Linked DNA regions of Homo sapiens: region 2 is linked to region 1. A link means that fine-mapping ties the variant in region 1 to the expression of a gene that starts in the linked region. Tissue or cell type: whole blood. Region 1 holds a variant in brackets; the other region holds the start of a gene. All regions are shown on one strand. Distances are from middle to middle.

Region 1 (8,172 bases):
CATATGAGAATCATCTCTCCTTAAAATTCAGCATATCAGCACCCCTGAGGGTGTGGGGGACAAGGGCAGGAGGCCACAGGGCAGCTGGGACCTTCCTGGCCAGGACAGTGCCTAGTCCTGGCCCTGGGCCTGAGCAGATCTTCTGGTGAGACCCAAGGGCACAGCACACGGTTTCCATGACTTCCCAACAACTACTCAATAAATATTTGCCAGGTCCCTGCCTGGGCAGGCCACAATGGTGACAAAGTAGCCCTGCCTCTGGAGCTCACAGTCCAGCAGGAGACAGGGCCATTCATCCTTGGTCACACAGATCAATGTGCTACACACTGGGGTGCCTGACCTTGCCCAGAAGGGGTGACACTGGAGCTGAGATCTAGGAAGGGCAGTAGTGGATGGGGAGTGTGGCCCTTCCAGAAAGGGTTTTCACCTCCAGGGGACTGGGCTCAGTCTCAGGGCTCTGCTATGGACAAAGTATGTCCCTCCAAATTCACAGATTGAAACTCTGAGCCCCAATGTGCCTGTATCTGGAGATAAAACCTTTGGGAGCTAATTAAGGTTAATTGAGGTCATAACGGTGGTATTAAGAAGGCAGCTGTCTGCAAGCCATGAAGAGAGCCCTCACCAGAACCTGACCACGCTGGCACTCTCATCTAGACTGCCAGCCCCCAGCACTCTGAAATATAAATGTCTGTTGTTTAAGCCACCCAGTCTGTGATATTTTGTTGTGTGGCAGCTTGAGCTGACTAAGACAGGCCTGAAGCACCATCTATTCACTGATGCCTCCCCCACTGGAGTCTTTGGCCCGGACTTCCCTGTGAATGCCAGACTCGCACACACCCCAGACACCTCCACTCAACAATTTCAGGACCTGGCTCCAGTCCTTCCCAAAACCTGTGAATGCCGTAGCTTCACCAGCTCTGGCCCTCCTCATTCAGATCCTTGGATTCATCTTCAACTCCTTCAAAACCACTTTGTACTACCTTGGCCCCAAGTGACACTGCCTGGGCCCCTACAATGCTTTATTGGGGCCCCTGGCAGTCTGGCCCTGCTTGCTCTCGGACCTACTAGAATGGGAATGGGACAGCCATAGCTCTTCATACTCTCCCTGGTCACATAAAGCCCTTTCTCTACTCTTTTGCTTTTGGAGACAGGGCCTTGCTCTGTCACCCAGGCTGGAGTACAGTGGCACCATCATAGCTCACTTCAGCCTCAAACTCCTGGGCTCAAGCAATCCTCCCACCTCAGCTTCCCAAATAGCTGGGACCACAGGAGCTACATCCAGCTAATTTTTTTTTTTCTTTTTTTTTTTGAGGCAGAGTCTCGCTCTGTCGCCCAGGCTGGAGTGCAGTGGTGGGATCTCGGCTCACTGCAAGAATCGTTCAAGCGATTCTCCTGTCTCAGCCTCCTGAGTAGCTGGGATTAAAGGTAACCACCACCATGCCTGGCTAATTTTTCTATTTTTAGTAGAGATGGGGTTTCACCATGTTGGCCAGGCTGGTCTTGAACTCCTGACCTCAAGTGATCCGCCCACCTCCCAAAGTGCTGGGATTACAGGCGTGAGCCACGGCACCCGGCCCATCCAGTTAACCGAAAAAAAAAAAAAAAAAAAAAAAAAAAAAGTATATGTATATGTATGCTTTTTTTTTTTTTTTTTTTTGGTAGAGACGTGATCTCACTATATTGCCTGGGCTGGTCTCCAACTCCCAGCTGAGTGTTCCTCCTGCCACAGCCTCACAAAACCCTGCGATTATAGGCATGAGCCACTGCGTCTGACCAACAAAGCCCTTCCCGACACTAACTCCCTGGCTTGATTCTCCCTGCTTGACTTATCCTTCTTGGGAGTTCCTATGATTTATTTAGCAAGCTGGCCATTTTTCTTTTTCTAAAAAAAAATTATTTATTTGTGCATTTTTTAGTAATAGAGACGAGGTCTCCCTAATGTTGCCCAGGCTGGTCTCAAACTCCTGGGCTCAAGTGGTCCTCCTGCCTTGGCCTCCCAAAGTGCTCGGACTACAGGTGCGAGCCACCACCCCTGCCAAACTGGGCATTTTTTGGGGCTTCATGTCAGTTTCCCTGGGGCAGGGAGTTTGCCTGTGTAGATCCCTGTTGTGTCCTCTACCCCTAGGACCTGGCCAGGTACACAGTGGGTGCTCACAGTCCTTCGTGGAAAAAATGAACAAAGAATTACTTCCATTCCTCCTAACCTAACTCCCTGTTTTGTTCCACATTAACGTGGCTCAAACAGGAATAGGGCTCAGAAGCATTATCTGTGGCTGGGCAGACAGACGACCTCCTTTGACAGCTGCCAAGGTGGGTAGCCAGCAGTCAGGGGCCTATTGAGACCGCAGTGTTACCTGACGAATTGCTCACACTGCCGGTGGATCCTGCCATCTGCAGGAAGGGGGCTGGCAGGATGATTCCTGGGAGTAGTAACTGTCAGCTCTTAGGGAAGAGAGCTGAGGAATTCCCCAGCCAGCATGGGCCTGTGAGAGACTGTCAAAGGCACAGTCCTTTCCTGATGTCTTTCCAGGGAAGCTGTGACATGGCCGTCGACAGATGCTATGGTCTGAATGTTTGCCTCTTCCCAAAATTCACATGCTAAAGCCTATCTCCAATGTAGTGGTATTAAGAAGTGGGGCTGGCTGGGCACGGTGACTCACGCCTGTAACCCCAGCACTTTGGGAGGCTGAGGAGGGCGGATCACGAGGTCACGAGGTCAGGAGATAGAGACCATCCTGGCTAACATGGTGAAACCCCATCTCTACTAAAAATACAAAAAATTAGCCAGGCACAGTGGTACGTGCCTGTAATCCCAGCTACTCGGGAGGCTGAGGCAGGAGAATCGCTTGAACTCAGGAGGCGAAGGTTGCGGTGAGCCGAGATCGGGCCAATGCACTCCAGCCTGGTGACAGAGCAAGACTCCGTCTAAAAAAAAAAAAAAAGTTAGGCCTTTCAGCCAGGTATGGTGGTTCACGCCTGTAATCTCAGCACTTTGGGAGGCCGAGGTGGGCGGATCACCTGAGGTCAGGAGTTGGAGACTAGCCTGGCCAATATGGTGAAACCCCATCTCTACTAAAAATACAAAAATTAGCTGGGCGCAGTGGTGCACGCCTGTAATCCCAGCTATTAGGTAGGCTGAGGCAGAATTGCTTGAACCTAGGAGGTGGAAGTTGCAGCGAGCCAAGATCACGCCACTGCACTCTAGGCTGGGCAACAGAGCAAGACTCCATCTCAAAATAAAAAAGAAGTTGTTGATCAAAAATTTAAAAAGGGCTGGGTGCAGTGGCTCACGCCTGTAATCCCAGCACTTTGGGAGGCAGAGACAGGCGGATTACCTGAGATCAGGAGTTCGAGATCAGCCTGGGCAACACAGTGAAACCCCGTCTCTACTAAAAATACAAAATTAGCCTGGCATGCTGACACATGCCTGTAATCCCAGCTACTTGGGAGGCTGAGGCAGGAGAATCGCTTGAACCTGGGAGGCGGAGGATGCGGTGAGTCAAGATCGCACCACTGCACTCCAGCCTGGGCAACAAGAGTAAATCTCCGTCTCACCAAAAAAAAAAAAAAAAAAAAAAGTGGGGCCTTCGGGAGTTGATTCAGTCAGGAGGGCTCTGTCCTCATGAATACGAACTGTGCCCGTATAAAAGAGGGGGAGCTTGTTTGTCCTTGCCACCCTGTGCAGATACCTAAAAGGTGCTATCTATGAGAGATGGGCCCTCACTAGACACGGAATCTGCTAGCACCGTGATATGGGACTTCCCACCCTCTACAACTATGAGCAGCTCATCTCTGTTGTTTATCAATGGCCCAGTCTGTTTTGTTTTTTTGAGACAGGGTCTTGCTCTGTCACCCAGGCTGAAGCGTAGTGGTGCAATCTTGGATCACTATAGCGTCAAACTCCTGGGCTCAAGTTATCCTCTCACCTCAGCCTCCTGAGTAGCTGGGACTAGGGATGTGTGCCACCACGCCCGGCTAATTAAAACAATTTTTTGCAAAGACGAGAGACATATGTTCTCAGGACCTCCTGAGGGCTGTGTCACGGGTGAAAAACAAATTAAAATTAAATTTTTTTGTAAAGATGAGGTCTCACTATGTTGCCCAGGCTGGTCTCGAACTCCTGGGCTCAAGCAATCCTCCCATCTCAGCCTCCTAAATGCTGAGGTTAGAGGCATGAGCAATGTGCCTGGCTTCCAGTCTAAGGTATTTTATTACAGCAGCCCAGATGGGCTAAGACCTACAAGCCAGTTAAGGGAGACCAGCAACTCCAAGTGTAACAAGGAACAAAGGCCCCAGAGAGCCCCACAGTCCTTCATGCAGCTCAGCAGGATGTGGCTGGATCCTGGCAGCTACTCAGGTTGCCTGCCTGACCCAGAACCAGAAAGACCCCTCTGTAGGGGCTGAATGTGAAGGCAGTCCAGGAAAACAGTTAGTGAAGAACAAACTGTTCAGTGGGGGGCGGTGACTCCTACCTGTAATCCCAGAACTTCGGGAGGCTGAGGCAGGAAGACGCTTGAAGCCAGGAGTTTGAGACCAGCCTGGGCAATACAGCAAGACCTCATCTTGCATCAGTATTTTTTTTTCTTTTTTGTTGAGACAGTCTTCCTCTGTCGCCCAGGCTGGAGTACAGTGGCGTGATTTCGGCTAACTGCAACCTCCGCCTCCTGGGTTCAAGCAATTCTCGTGCCTCCGCCTCCTGAGTAGCTAGGATTACAGGCACACACCACCATGCCTGGCTAATTTTTGTATTTTTAGTAGAGACTGGGTTTCTCCATGTTGGCCAGGCTGGTCTCAAAACTCCTGGCCTCAAGTGATCCGCCCACCTCAGCCTCCCAAAGAGCTGGGATTACAGGCGTGAGCCACTGCACCTGGCCTGTATTTTTTTTCTTATACACCCACAGATTTAATTCGTTATCT[C/T]TTTCCCTGAATGACTATTGTTAAATCCATGGTGGAATAGGATTAGTAACAGTGTCCCCTACTCAAGCCTCACTGACTGGGCCCATACCTGGCCAGGGCTCAGACAGGCTCATTTAACTTACTCTTCTTTACAGTTTCTGAGGAAGAAATGAGCCTGCCTGCCATTTCATGGATGGGAATGAGGCCCAGAGAGGTGAAGCCAGAGGTGGGGAACATGTAGCTGGTGAATGGCAGGCACAGGTTTATACCCAGGCCGTCTGGCTCCCGAATCAGGCAAAAATGTGAGGCAGCTGTGACTAGACCCATTTCACAGGTGGGAAAACTGGTGTTCAGAGAAGCAAGGCAGAGACCAGACGGGAACCCCGGACCGGCCGAGCCCAGAGCTGGGGCTCTTTACCTGAGCTACTGGATGTGTCCTCTCCAGAAACAGGGTCTTCTGCCTGTCTGAGGACCTCCACCTCAGGGTCTGGGGTGCCCTCTCTCTAATCCCCAAGGAAGGCCTTCTTCATTCTTTTCATTCTTCCTTTCCCAATCCTCCCAACTGCAGCTATTCTCTAGCCCCTTCTCCCTGCAACCACCATCTCCGGGAATGAGCAGTCTCCGCGTGCTGCCTCTCCCTCCTCCCACTCGCTCCTCCTCGCAGCCCTCGGCAATCTGGCCTCCCTTTGCAGGCAGCAGCTCCAGCTCCTTGGAGAGCCTGGCAGAAGCTCTGCCTCCGTCCTCATGGAGCTCGCAGCCTGCCCGCTCCCTCCCCACCAACTCCAACCATAAGCCCACCCTTCGGAGTTACATCCCACTCCCTGCGTGTAATCAGATCATACCCAAAAGACAGGGCAGCAGTGGCGGCAACCAAGGGTGGAGGGAACAACAGTAAGTGCAAAGGCCCTGAGGTGACCCTGGTGCCGCTAACACAAAGGAGGGTGGAGGGATGGGGATCATCCTGGGAGAGGGGCCTGCTGGGCTGTGCTAGGGAACCACGCAGGACCTAAGATTTTGAATCCTACTATTGTACTAGGCTCAAATCCCTTATAGAGCTTGTCACTCAGAATTACCCTCAATACTGCTCACCCCCCATATCAGTCTCCCATCTAGAAAATGGGCTGACAGCAGCAGCCACCTCACAAGGCTATTTCAAGGATTAAACAACCAAAGAACACAGGCCGATCGGCGCTCGCCCCGTAGTCGGTGCTCATGAATGCCAGCTGCTGTTAGTCGTATCCCCTGGCCCCGTGCTGGGCCGCAAACTCCCTGGGAGTAGAAGACATCTTATGCCTCTCACCATCTCCCAGACCTCGCACATTTCATGGGATTAACAGGCAGTGATCGCTGGGGTTTTCCCCAGAGCCTTCACAGCACTGTCCACTCACACCCCAGACGCCAACCTCTCCCGCAAACCTCATGATAACCAGACAGTGGAGATTCCCCACCCAGCCACTGCATTTGCGTCAATCATTCTTTGTGGTGGGGGCTGCCCTACACACTGTCTGATGTTGAACCGCATCCCTGGCCTATAAACCCACTAGATGCCAGCAGCACACCCCCCCCCCCCCGGCAGGGGCAACCAAAAATGTCCCCAGACATTCCCCAAGTGTCCCCGGAGGTAGGACTGTACCCAGTTGCGAATCACAGCAGTATAGTTGTGCCCACTTGTCACTCCTTATCAGAGGAGGACACTGAGGCTCAGAGGTAAAGACCTTTGCCCAGAGTCTCATGGCTGAGACAGGGGTGGTGCTAAGTGTGAAATTTCACTCTCTACTAGACCGTGTCTGCTCACCCTTACCTACCCTCTCCCTTTGCTCGATTTAGAAACCACGAACTGGACACAGTCAAAGCCCTCAGAGAAGACGCACAGGTCTCTAAGAACTGAGACCTTCGCCAAGGAGGCAGCACATGAGAAGGCTGGAGGGACATGACCACAACCACACACAGATCACAACCTAAGACACGTCACCTCTGCCGGCTCGGCTGGTCCTCACCCCACCTAATGTGCAAGCAGGCCCAGTCCCACCTCCCGGCCCCACCTCATGCGGCCCAGAGGGTTCTCTAGGGGAAGGCAGTAGCGGCTGAGAGGACTGAGGAGCAAATGCAGACACGAGGAACATGAAAGTGGCTGGAAGGCGGCACAGGGGTGGTAGCCAGACCACTTTGCAGCTTGTGTGAAGGAAGGACTAGGGTGCCTCAGTTGCCTTGTGTGTCAAATGATGATAACAGGCAGGACCTGCTAGCCACGGGCTTAAATGAGTTCGAGTGTGTACAAGTGCTGAGAGCAACCTAGGAGGAGAAACGAGGGGCACGGAGGATCTGAGGACGCAGAGTGGCATGAACACTGACTCATGTTTTCCAGCCCCGGTGGCTCACCACCATCCCAAAAGCAATATGCCCCACCAAGCCTGATGGGATCCCTCTCTCCACACAGGCTCTGGCAATGACACTGATGAAATCTAGGGTCAGACAATGTTGGGCCAACCCCAAACTCTCTCCAAACCCCCGGGCCTCCAGGCAGACTCCTTCAATAGACCCTGTAAGGCTGACCAAAACTCACATCTCCTCAAAGCCCAGCTCAAGAACCTGCTGGGGCTCCCTGCTGCCCGGCCAGGAGGCCAGATTTTTTAAATACCCTAGATGCAGGCCAAGGGGTTCTGAACTTCCATCTGGGGGTGATGGGCAGATCCAGGAGACCCAGAGACAGGGCTTCACTCTCTTGTGAATGGTACTAGAGTCTCTGTCTCCACAGTAGGGTCATCCCCCCACTCCTTCCCTCATGAAGACAAAATGTTTAGAGCACTCAGAAGAAGACTGGTACATACTCAAGAAAAGCTGTGAATGTGCTGTCCCCTGAGCCTAGAACACTGACCCCTCCCTGCGCCCCAGCACCACCCACCCCTTAGCTAACATTATTATTCAGATCTTAGCTCTCCGGGAACACTTCCGGCCACCCATCGAAACCTCCCCATCCCCTCATGGCTCATAATGACTTCACTTTGCTACACCATCTTTGTAAACACAGAAGTATGTGAAATTATCTTGATCCTTTGCTTGTGAAAGTTTGGTCGCTTGAGAGCTAGCTGCTCTGGATCTGTTACTCCGGGATGCTTCCCCAGCCCCCAGCGGGGAGTCAGCACCCAGCAGTGAAATAAAACTGTCTCAACGGGCTGCCTACTTGTTGCACTTGCCCCCACAGAGTCTGTGCATGCTAAGTTCTCACCGAAAAGCAGTTATTACTGGTGCCTTCTCCTCTACCTCTAGGCACAAACC
Region 2 (8,172 bases), 25 kb before region 1:
GGACGCGGGCCAGGTTGGGAAAGGCGCCCTCCGCTTGCGCCGGAGGGGGCTGCAGGCGATCGGCGACTTCGGATGACGCTCCCTCCTCTTCTTCCTTTTCTTCCAGACGGGCTTTCTTGCTCGGGACCAGTCCAGCGTCCCCGCCGTCGCTCAGGCTGCTGCTGCGTCGTTTGCGGCTGACTTTGGCGGGGCGCGGGGCACAGCAGGCGGAGGTCTCCTCGGCTGTCGGCGCCTCCTGCGTGTCCATTGGCTCCGGAAACGGGTGCTCACCGTCGGGGGTCGCTGTCTCGGCCGTGGACTCGGCTTCTCGGGGCGGGTGCAGGCGAGGGTCAGAGGGGAGGGCGGCCGGCAACGACACCTCGGGCTCGAGGGCCTCCACCTTGGCCGAGAGGTAGAGCTCCCGGGCGCTGCGCATGACCAGCGACAGCTGCAGACTCCGGTGCAGCCGCAGGCCACCGCGCTGCATGCGGGAGTGATACATCTTCCACACCGACAGGGTCATGATGCGCTGTGCCTCTTTCTGCACTTCCATGGCGACTCGACGGCGACAGCGGCGGGGGCTCCCGGGAGGGACAGAACAGGCAGCAGGTGCACTCCGGACAACGGGCTCGCTCACGCCTCTCTACACAAACCAACCCACGCAGTGACACTGCTAGGACGCTCTGCCCAGGCGCCCGCCACCCAGGCCCTTTTATACCCCCAGTGACGTCACTGAGACACCCCGCCCAACCGAAGGACGCATCCGGGCTTTCCAACTCGTCGCGGCCAAACACTCCTTAAAGAGACAGAATGCGATTTACCCAGCAGGGAAAGGGGACGGGAACCCTGGCGAGGAGGAGCGTCCCCCGACTCCACGCTGAGCTTTCTGGGTGGGCTCCTTTCTCTGAGCCCCGCCGATGCATCAGCGCCTTGGCCCAAGGGAGGGGGGCCGGGGGTGGAGCTCACGGCCTACCCACATGCTCCCGTCTGGAGGCCCCAGTGGGTCGTGGGCAGCAAGTTTCCCTTCACACAGGGGAAGACCCTGGTTCCAGCCTGAACATCCCCTGTGGCCACTGTTCTTAGCATTTACCAGGTGTGTCTAATGAGTGTTTTCTGCACCAATAATCATGCTAACAGCGCTTACAACGTGCCAGGCTAGGTTAAGAGCTCTCCTTTTATCAATAATTCACCGATCCCCAGCCTCCACTCCTCGGAGGATACTGTTCTATCTGCTTCCTTCAAGTGGGGAAACCAAGGCAGAGTCACTAGGCCAATATTTACTAAACAAACAATATTTGCTACTGCTGTGAAAGGGGGCCACTGGGGCCTCCAGCTCTTCGGTCTCTAGCGTACGCCAGCCCTTGCTTGTAGGCGGTGACCCGCCCCGGGCTACGGGTTCCCGTGATTCGTACCAAGCCATTCCCCCGCAGTTTCCCGCGACAGGAGCTCCACGGGTGGGTTCAGAGCTCGCACGGCTGCGAACCCGGCGCGCACGACAGTCCCCGTGAACACGTGGCTGCCGCCCCCCAAACAAGGGGGCCGAGTTCCGTCTCCGCGTTCGGGGAGGCGGGGTTAGGTTGGGAGCTGGAAACCCAGCAATGCAGAGACAGAGCAGATAGAAAATCTCCGCCCTACCCTCCGCTACGCGCCGTCTCTCCAAGAAATACTAATTCCACTTCCTCCAAAAATAGGATGCAGAATTGTTCGAATGGCTCCATTCATTCCTGGTGCGGGCCCTTTAAGGGGTGGTGCGCCCCCCGCCCCCTTTCCGCCCGCACTGGCTCGCGGCGCCTTCCCGCCACCAGCGCCCGCTGACTTCCACAACTAAATTTGGACGGAGTGACGTAGGGCAGTCGCGCGGGCCGCTTCCGGTTGCCCATATTAGGACAGGGCCCGTGATCGCCTTAGCGGCCGGCGGCGGGGCTTCCGGGGGGGGGGCGCGGAGGGGCGGGGCTTTGCGCTCCGGCCACGCCCCTCCCCATCCCCGACCCGGGCAGCCGGAGCAGGCTGGAGCCCCAGGCTTCCTGACTCGCATTCCAGCCGGGTGGGGGAAGAGGAGAGTTTCACTTCCTTCCCTCCAGGGGCCAGGAAGGCGTGACGCCAGGAAAGCACCCCGCAGCGGGTAGGGGCGACCTGAGGGCTCCCAGGGACGCCATCTCCCAGAGACGCTGCAGAACGACCCTGCATACACAGGAGACGACCCGCTGAGGCCCCCTTCATCCCATCTCTCCTCTTCCCAATTATTTCCCCCATACAAGGCCCCCTCCCAGGTTATTCCTGACCCCTGCCCCACACTGATCTTCTCAGGCCTTGGGACACCCTCCCGTCCCGCCCTTCCCCCGCACGCTGGGAACTCAAAAGTTATTCCCCCCTAAAATACCCTTCCCAAACTCGTCCCCATTCAACGATGGTGCCAGACTGCGACGACCTGCCGAAGACGCAGGCCGTCCCCACCCCGCTAACCTTACCACGGAGACCCCACAATGATTTCCCCAGCCCAGGCGCTATCTCTGAGACCCCACGCAGCAACTCTGACGCGCAAGGGGGCGACCCTCCGAGGACTCCCTCAGATAACCCGCCCACCCTCCAGGGGAGACCAGGCCCCCTATCACTCAAAAAAAGTGCTTTCCCGAAGCTCCCCAACACACAGCGCCACTGTCACACATAGGGACGACCCTGAGTCCCTCCGCTGATATTCCTGGCCCCTACCCAGACGGAGACCCCACACACAGAGGGCCCCCCTGGAGACCATCCTCAAAGCCACCACCCGCTACCCCCAGGCTCGCACCCAGAAAGACTCCGCGCTTCTGAAGAAACCCACCTCCACGCACTTTCTCAAAGGTGACCTCCCCCCGCTGCTGGCATATCTGGGACCCCCTCACGACCACCTCGCCCCAAGGCGACCTCGAAGTGCCCCCAACTCCGCCACTTCTCAGGAAAGAGATTGGGAGAATGCGGCAGAACTCCCCGGAGGAGCAGGCCCGCTCCTCACCGCGCCCCCGCAGGGAGAAGGGAGGACCACCTCTCCCCCAGACCCTAGCCAAACCTGACACTCGGGACCCTGGGATGGGACGATCTCCCAGGTGCCAGCTCAGGGAGTCCATGAAAAGCTTCAACGAATCGAATGAGCCCCTTCCCCAGCCATAATACCCAGCCGCCAGAGATGAGGGAGGCTATCATTATTTACATTGCCCGTGCCTGGAAGGGAAACTGAAGTTGCGCAGGAACAATCCGAGGAACTGGGCCTTGAACCGAAATTCCGAACTCGGACCCGAATAGGCCCAGACAGAACTCCGACACCGCCCCCTACGGTGCGGCACGAGAGGGCTAAGGGGCGGGGGCATGTGCACCGGAAGCTGCCTCTGCCCACAACCAAGATGGCTGAGGAGAGGGCGGAAGTGTCCGCACGTCGGGCCTCCGAGGCTTCTCTTTCTCCCCTGGCGGTCCGGCTCTCGATGGTGGCGTGACGGGGGCGGGGGTGGCGGCGCGTTCTCCTCGGTTGGGAGGGAACCAGCCCGCGAACCCAGGCCGGGAGGGGGGTTCGGCCTGGGGGGGAAGGGACTGACATGTCTCTCGAAGACCCCTTTTTTGTAGTCCGAGGGTGAGTGACAACGACGGGGGAGGGCGGAGGGTGCTCTGTACCCAAGCCAGCCAGTGCCCGGGTGCCGGCCCCAGCGTGCCCGGCGGGCTGGGCAAGGCCGTCGGGGTGCAGAGTGGGAGGCGCACGCAGGGGTATATAGGGGTCTCCGGAGTCCCCCATGCGTTTGGGTTTGCAGTCGGGGGCAGAGGCAGGCGGGAGGACCGCCTGCCCCCAGCCGCGCCCGCCGTGCCCCTGCCCGCAGCGAGGTGCAGAAGGCGGTGAACACGGCCCGCGGGCTGTACCAGCGCTGGTGCGAGCTCCTGCAGGAAAGCGCGGCGGTCGGACGCGAGGAGCTGGACTGGACGACCAATGAGCTGCGGAATGGCCTGCGCAGCATCGAGTGGGACCTCGAGGACCTGGAAGAGACCATCGATATCCTGGGGCTTTGTGGCAGAGGGTGGCATGGGAGAGCCCATTGCGGTGGCAGCCCACCTTCGGGTAGGGCTGGACCCCTAGGGACGGGGATGATATCTGGCTCCGGCCTTGACCCTTGACTCTCAGCCCACGTATAGTGGAAGCCAACCCAGGCAAGTTCAAGCTCCCAGCCGGGGACCTGCAGGAGAGAAAGGTGTTCGTGGAGCGGATGCGAGAGGCAGTCCAGGTCAGGAAAGGTCCTGCAGGCGGGGAGTGGGGGAAGGTTTGAGTGTGTTTTTTTTTCTTTCTTTCTTTCTTTTTTTTTTTTTTTTTTGAGACAGAGCCTCGCTCTGTCGCCCAGGCTGGAGTACAGTGTTGCAATCTCGGCTCACTGCAACCTCCGCCTCCCAGGCTCAAGCGATTCTTGTGTCTCAGTCTCCTGAGTAGCTGGGACTACAGGTGCCTGCCACGATACCCGGCTAAGTTTTGTGTTTTTAGTAGAGACGGGGTTTCACCATGTTGATCAGGCTGGTCTCGAACTCCTGACCTCAGGTGATCCACCCGGCTTGGTCTCTCAAAGTGCTAGGATTACAGGCGTGAGCCACCGCGCCCAGCCTGAGTGTCTTTCCTCCCTAATGCTGTCCTTACCTCCAGGAAATGAAGGACCATATGGTCAGCCCAACAGCCGTAGCATTTTTGGAGAGGAATAACAGAGAGGTAAGCCTTCCTGACCCACCCTGCCCACCTGAGCCCCTGGGGGTAACCAAGCCAGATCCCTCTGTGCGTGTTCACCTGTCCCTTTTGCGACAGTGCCCGTCCTCTCTGTGGGCAGTTATCTTCTTGCTGTCTACCTGCCTGCACTTTCTCGGTGTGTGCACCTGAACCTCTCTATGTGTATATGTCCGTGGGTTCCTCTCTACTGTGTCCTCTGGGTCTATACTGGTTTCCTGTTGCAGGAGAGGGCTGGGGGCCTGTGTACCTATCTCCTTTCTGCTTCCATGCCATTTGTCCTGTGTGCACCTGTTTCCAGGACGCATGCCTGCCTTTTACTCTTTTTTTTTTCTTTGAGACAGAGTCTTGTTCTGTTGCCCAGGCTGGAGTGCAGTGGCTTGATCTCAGCTCACTGCAACCTCTGCCTCCTGGGTTCAAGCGATTCTCCTGCCTCAGCCTCCCAAGTAGCTGGGATTACAGGTGCTCGTCACCATGCCAGGGTAACTTCTGTATTTTTTTTTTTTTTTTTTTGAGATGGAGTTTCACTCTTGTTGCCCAGGCTGGAGTGCAATGGTGCAATCTCGGCTCACCGCAATCTCCGCCTCCTGGGTTCAAACAATTCTCCTGCCTCAGCCTCCCGAGTAGCTGGGATTATAGGCATACGCCACCATGCCTGGCTAATTTTGTATTTTTAGTAGAGACGGGGTTTCTCCATGTTGGTCAGGCTGATCTTGAACTCCCAACCTCAGGTGATCCACCTGCCTCAGCCTCCCAAAGTGCTGGAATTACAGGCATGAGCCACTGCGCCTGGCCTAATTTTTGTATTTTTAATAGGGTTTTGTCATGTTGGTCAGTCTGGTCTCAAACCCCTCACATCAACTGATCTGCCTGCCTCAGCCTTCCAAAGTGCTGGGATTACAGGCGTGAGCCATCGCACATAACTTCCTTTTTTTTTTTTTTTTTTTTTTTTTTGAGATGCAGTCTCACTCTGTTGCCAGGCTGGAGTGCAGTGGCGCAGTCTCGGCTCACTGCAACCTCCGCCTCCTGGGCTCAACGATTCTCCAGCCTCAGCCTCCTGAGTAGCTGTAATACAGGCACATGCCACCACACCCGGCTAATTTTTTTTTTTTTTTTTTTTTTTGAGACGGAGTGTTGCTCTGTCGCCCAGGCTGGAGTGCAGTGACGTGATCTCGGCTCACTGCAGCCTCCGCCTCCCGGGTTCAAGCAATTCTGTCTCAGCCTCCCGAGTAGCTGGGATTACAGGCACCCACCACCATGCGTGGCTAAATTTTGTATTTCTAGTAGAGACGGGGCTTCAACATCTTGGCCAGGCTGGTCTTGAACTCTTGACCTCGTGATCCACCTGCCTCGGCCTCCCAAAGTGCTGGGATTACAGGTGTGAGCCACCACGCCCGGCCAATTTTTGTATTTTTAGTAGAGACGGAGTTTCATCATGTTGGCCAGGATGGTCTTGATCTCCTGACCTTGTGATCCACTAGCTTCAGCCTCCCAAAATGCTGAGATTACAGGCGTGAGCCACCGCGCCCGGCCAGCTTCCTTTTTTTTTTTTGAGATGGAGTCTTGGCATGTTGCCCAGGCTGGGGTGCAGTGGTGCAATCTTGACTCACTGAAACCTCCACCTTCCGGGTTCAAGCAATTCTCCTGCCTCAGCCTCCTGGGTAGCTGGGACAACAGGAGTGTGCCACCATGCCCAGCTAATTTTTGTGTTTTTAGTAGAGACAGGGTTTCCCCATGTTGGCCAGGCTGGTCTCAAACTCCCTACCTCAGGTGATCCGCCCCCGCCTTTTCATCTGTGCATGCACCTAACCTATTTGGGTGCGTGCACTTGGCCTCTGAGTGTATCTGCATTTTCCCCCCTCATATCCTAATATCTGCTAGTTTCCTCTGTAATGTGCCTGCCGTGTGTGTGTGTGTGTGTGTGTGTGTGTGTGTGTTTCTGTGTTTCTCCCAACCACCTCTGTCAGTCCACTTTTTCTCTTGGTGTTCTCTGTTGATATTTTTCATATGTTGAGAACCACCAGCCTTTCTCTCTCCCTCATAAGCGTACGTGGGGTCGGGGAGGGTGGGGGACTGAGGCTCCTCCCAGTTTGTCATCCCATAGCAGTGCCCACGTGCCTTCCAGATGTGCTGCCTTGGGGGAATTCAAGTCCAAACTCTAAAATACATCTGTTGGAGCCGGGCACGGTGGCTCACACCTAAAATCTCAGCACTTTGGGAGGCCCAGGCAAGTGGATCACCTGAGGTCAGGCGTTCGAGACCAGCCTGGCCAACATGATGAAACCCTGTCTCTACAAAAAATACAAAAATTAGCCAGGCGTGGTGGTGATCACCTGTAATCTCAGATACTTGGGAAGCTGAGGCAGGAGAATTGCTTGAACCCGGGAGGTGGAGGTTGCAGTGAGGCGAGATCACACCACTGCACTCCAGCCTAGGTGACAGAGCAAGACTCTGTCTCAGACAAACAAACAAACATCTGTTGGGCCAGGCATGGTAGCTCACGCCTGTAATCCCAGCACTTTGGGAGGCTGAGGCAGGTGGATCACTTGAGGTCAGGAGTTCGAGACCAGCCTGGCCAACATGGGGAAACCCTATCACTAGTAAAAATACAAAAATTAGCTGGATGTGGTGGCAGGTGCCTGTAATCCCAGCTAAAATCCCCCCAAAAATAAACAAATAGTAAAATGTGACATTTACTAGCATTACTATGTGTTGGGCACTGCTGTAAGTGTCCCCCATCAATTAATTCTTTAAATCCTCATTTCAACCCAGGAAACACGGATTCTAGCTCTTCCCATTTTATTTTATTTTTTTTTTTTTTGAGGCAAGGTCACTCTGACACCCAGGCTGGAAATGCAGTGGTGCGATCTCAGCTCACTGCAACCACCGCCCCCCAGGTTCAAGCGATTCTGCTGCCTTAGCCTCACAAGTAGCTGGGATTACAGGCATGCACTGCCACACCCGGTAATTTTTTTTTTTTTTTTTTTTTTTGAGAGAAGGTCTTAACCTGTCACCCAGGCTGGAGTGCAGTGGTGTGATCTCGGCTCACTGCAACCTCAGCCTCCCAGGTTCAAGTGATTCTGACCTGCCTCAGCCTCCCTAGTAGCTGGGATTACAGGCACCCGCCACCAAGCCTGGCTAATTTTTGTATTTTTAGTAGAGACGGGATTTCACCATGTTGGCCAGGCTGCTCTCAAACTCTTGACCTCGTGATCCATCTACCTCGGCCTCCCAAAGTGCTGGGATTACAGGTGTGAGCCACTGTGCCCGGCCCAATTTTTGTATTTTTAGTAGAGATGGGGTTTCACCATGTTGGCCAGGCTGGTCTCGAGCTCCTGACCTCAAGTTATCTGCCCACCTCCACCTCCCAGAGTGCTGGGATTACAAGCATGAGCTACCATGCCCCATCCTGCTCTCTGCATTTTACAGATGAGGAAACTGAGGCACAAGGAAGCCAAATGATGGGGTCT

The links. PIP is the estimated chance that this variant, and not a neighbour inherited with it, causes the effect.
Region 2: STX10 starts here. The variant in region 1 is fine-mapped to the expression of STX10 in whole blood (INTERVAL, PIP 0.97).

The regions. Positions count from the first base shown.
Region 1 is chr19:13,120,819-13,128,990 of GRCh38, reverse strand. The region is part of intron 1 of NACC1 (nucleus accumbens associated 1); the gene reads right to left. Among named protein-coding and RNA genes, the nearest start is that of NACC1, 6.6 kb to the right of the region's middle. RefSeq lists enhancers at 5,004-5,663, 6,227-6,276 and a silencer at 6,647-6,716. The variant C/T (reference allele first, on the strand shown) is at 4,918.
Region 2 is chr19:13,145,547-13,153,718 of GRCh38, reverse strand. STX10 (syntaxin 10) reads left to right here and starts at 3,344. Exons shown (of 8, transcript NM_003765.3): 1 at 3,344-3,580; 2 at 3,822-3,991; 3 at 4,126-4,220; 4 at 4,628-4,690. The coding sequence starts at 3,546. It overlaps IER2 (immediate early response 2), which reads right to left and starts at 3,308. Exons shown (of 2, transcript NM_004907.3): 1 at 3,167-3,308; 2 at 1-775. The coding sequence starts at 532. RefSeq lists enhancers at 1-577, 564-893, 3,174-3,243, 3,264-3,463 and silencers at 1,674-2,033, 3,584-3,743, 3,784-3,833.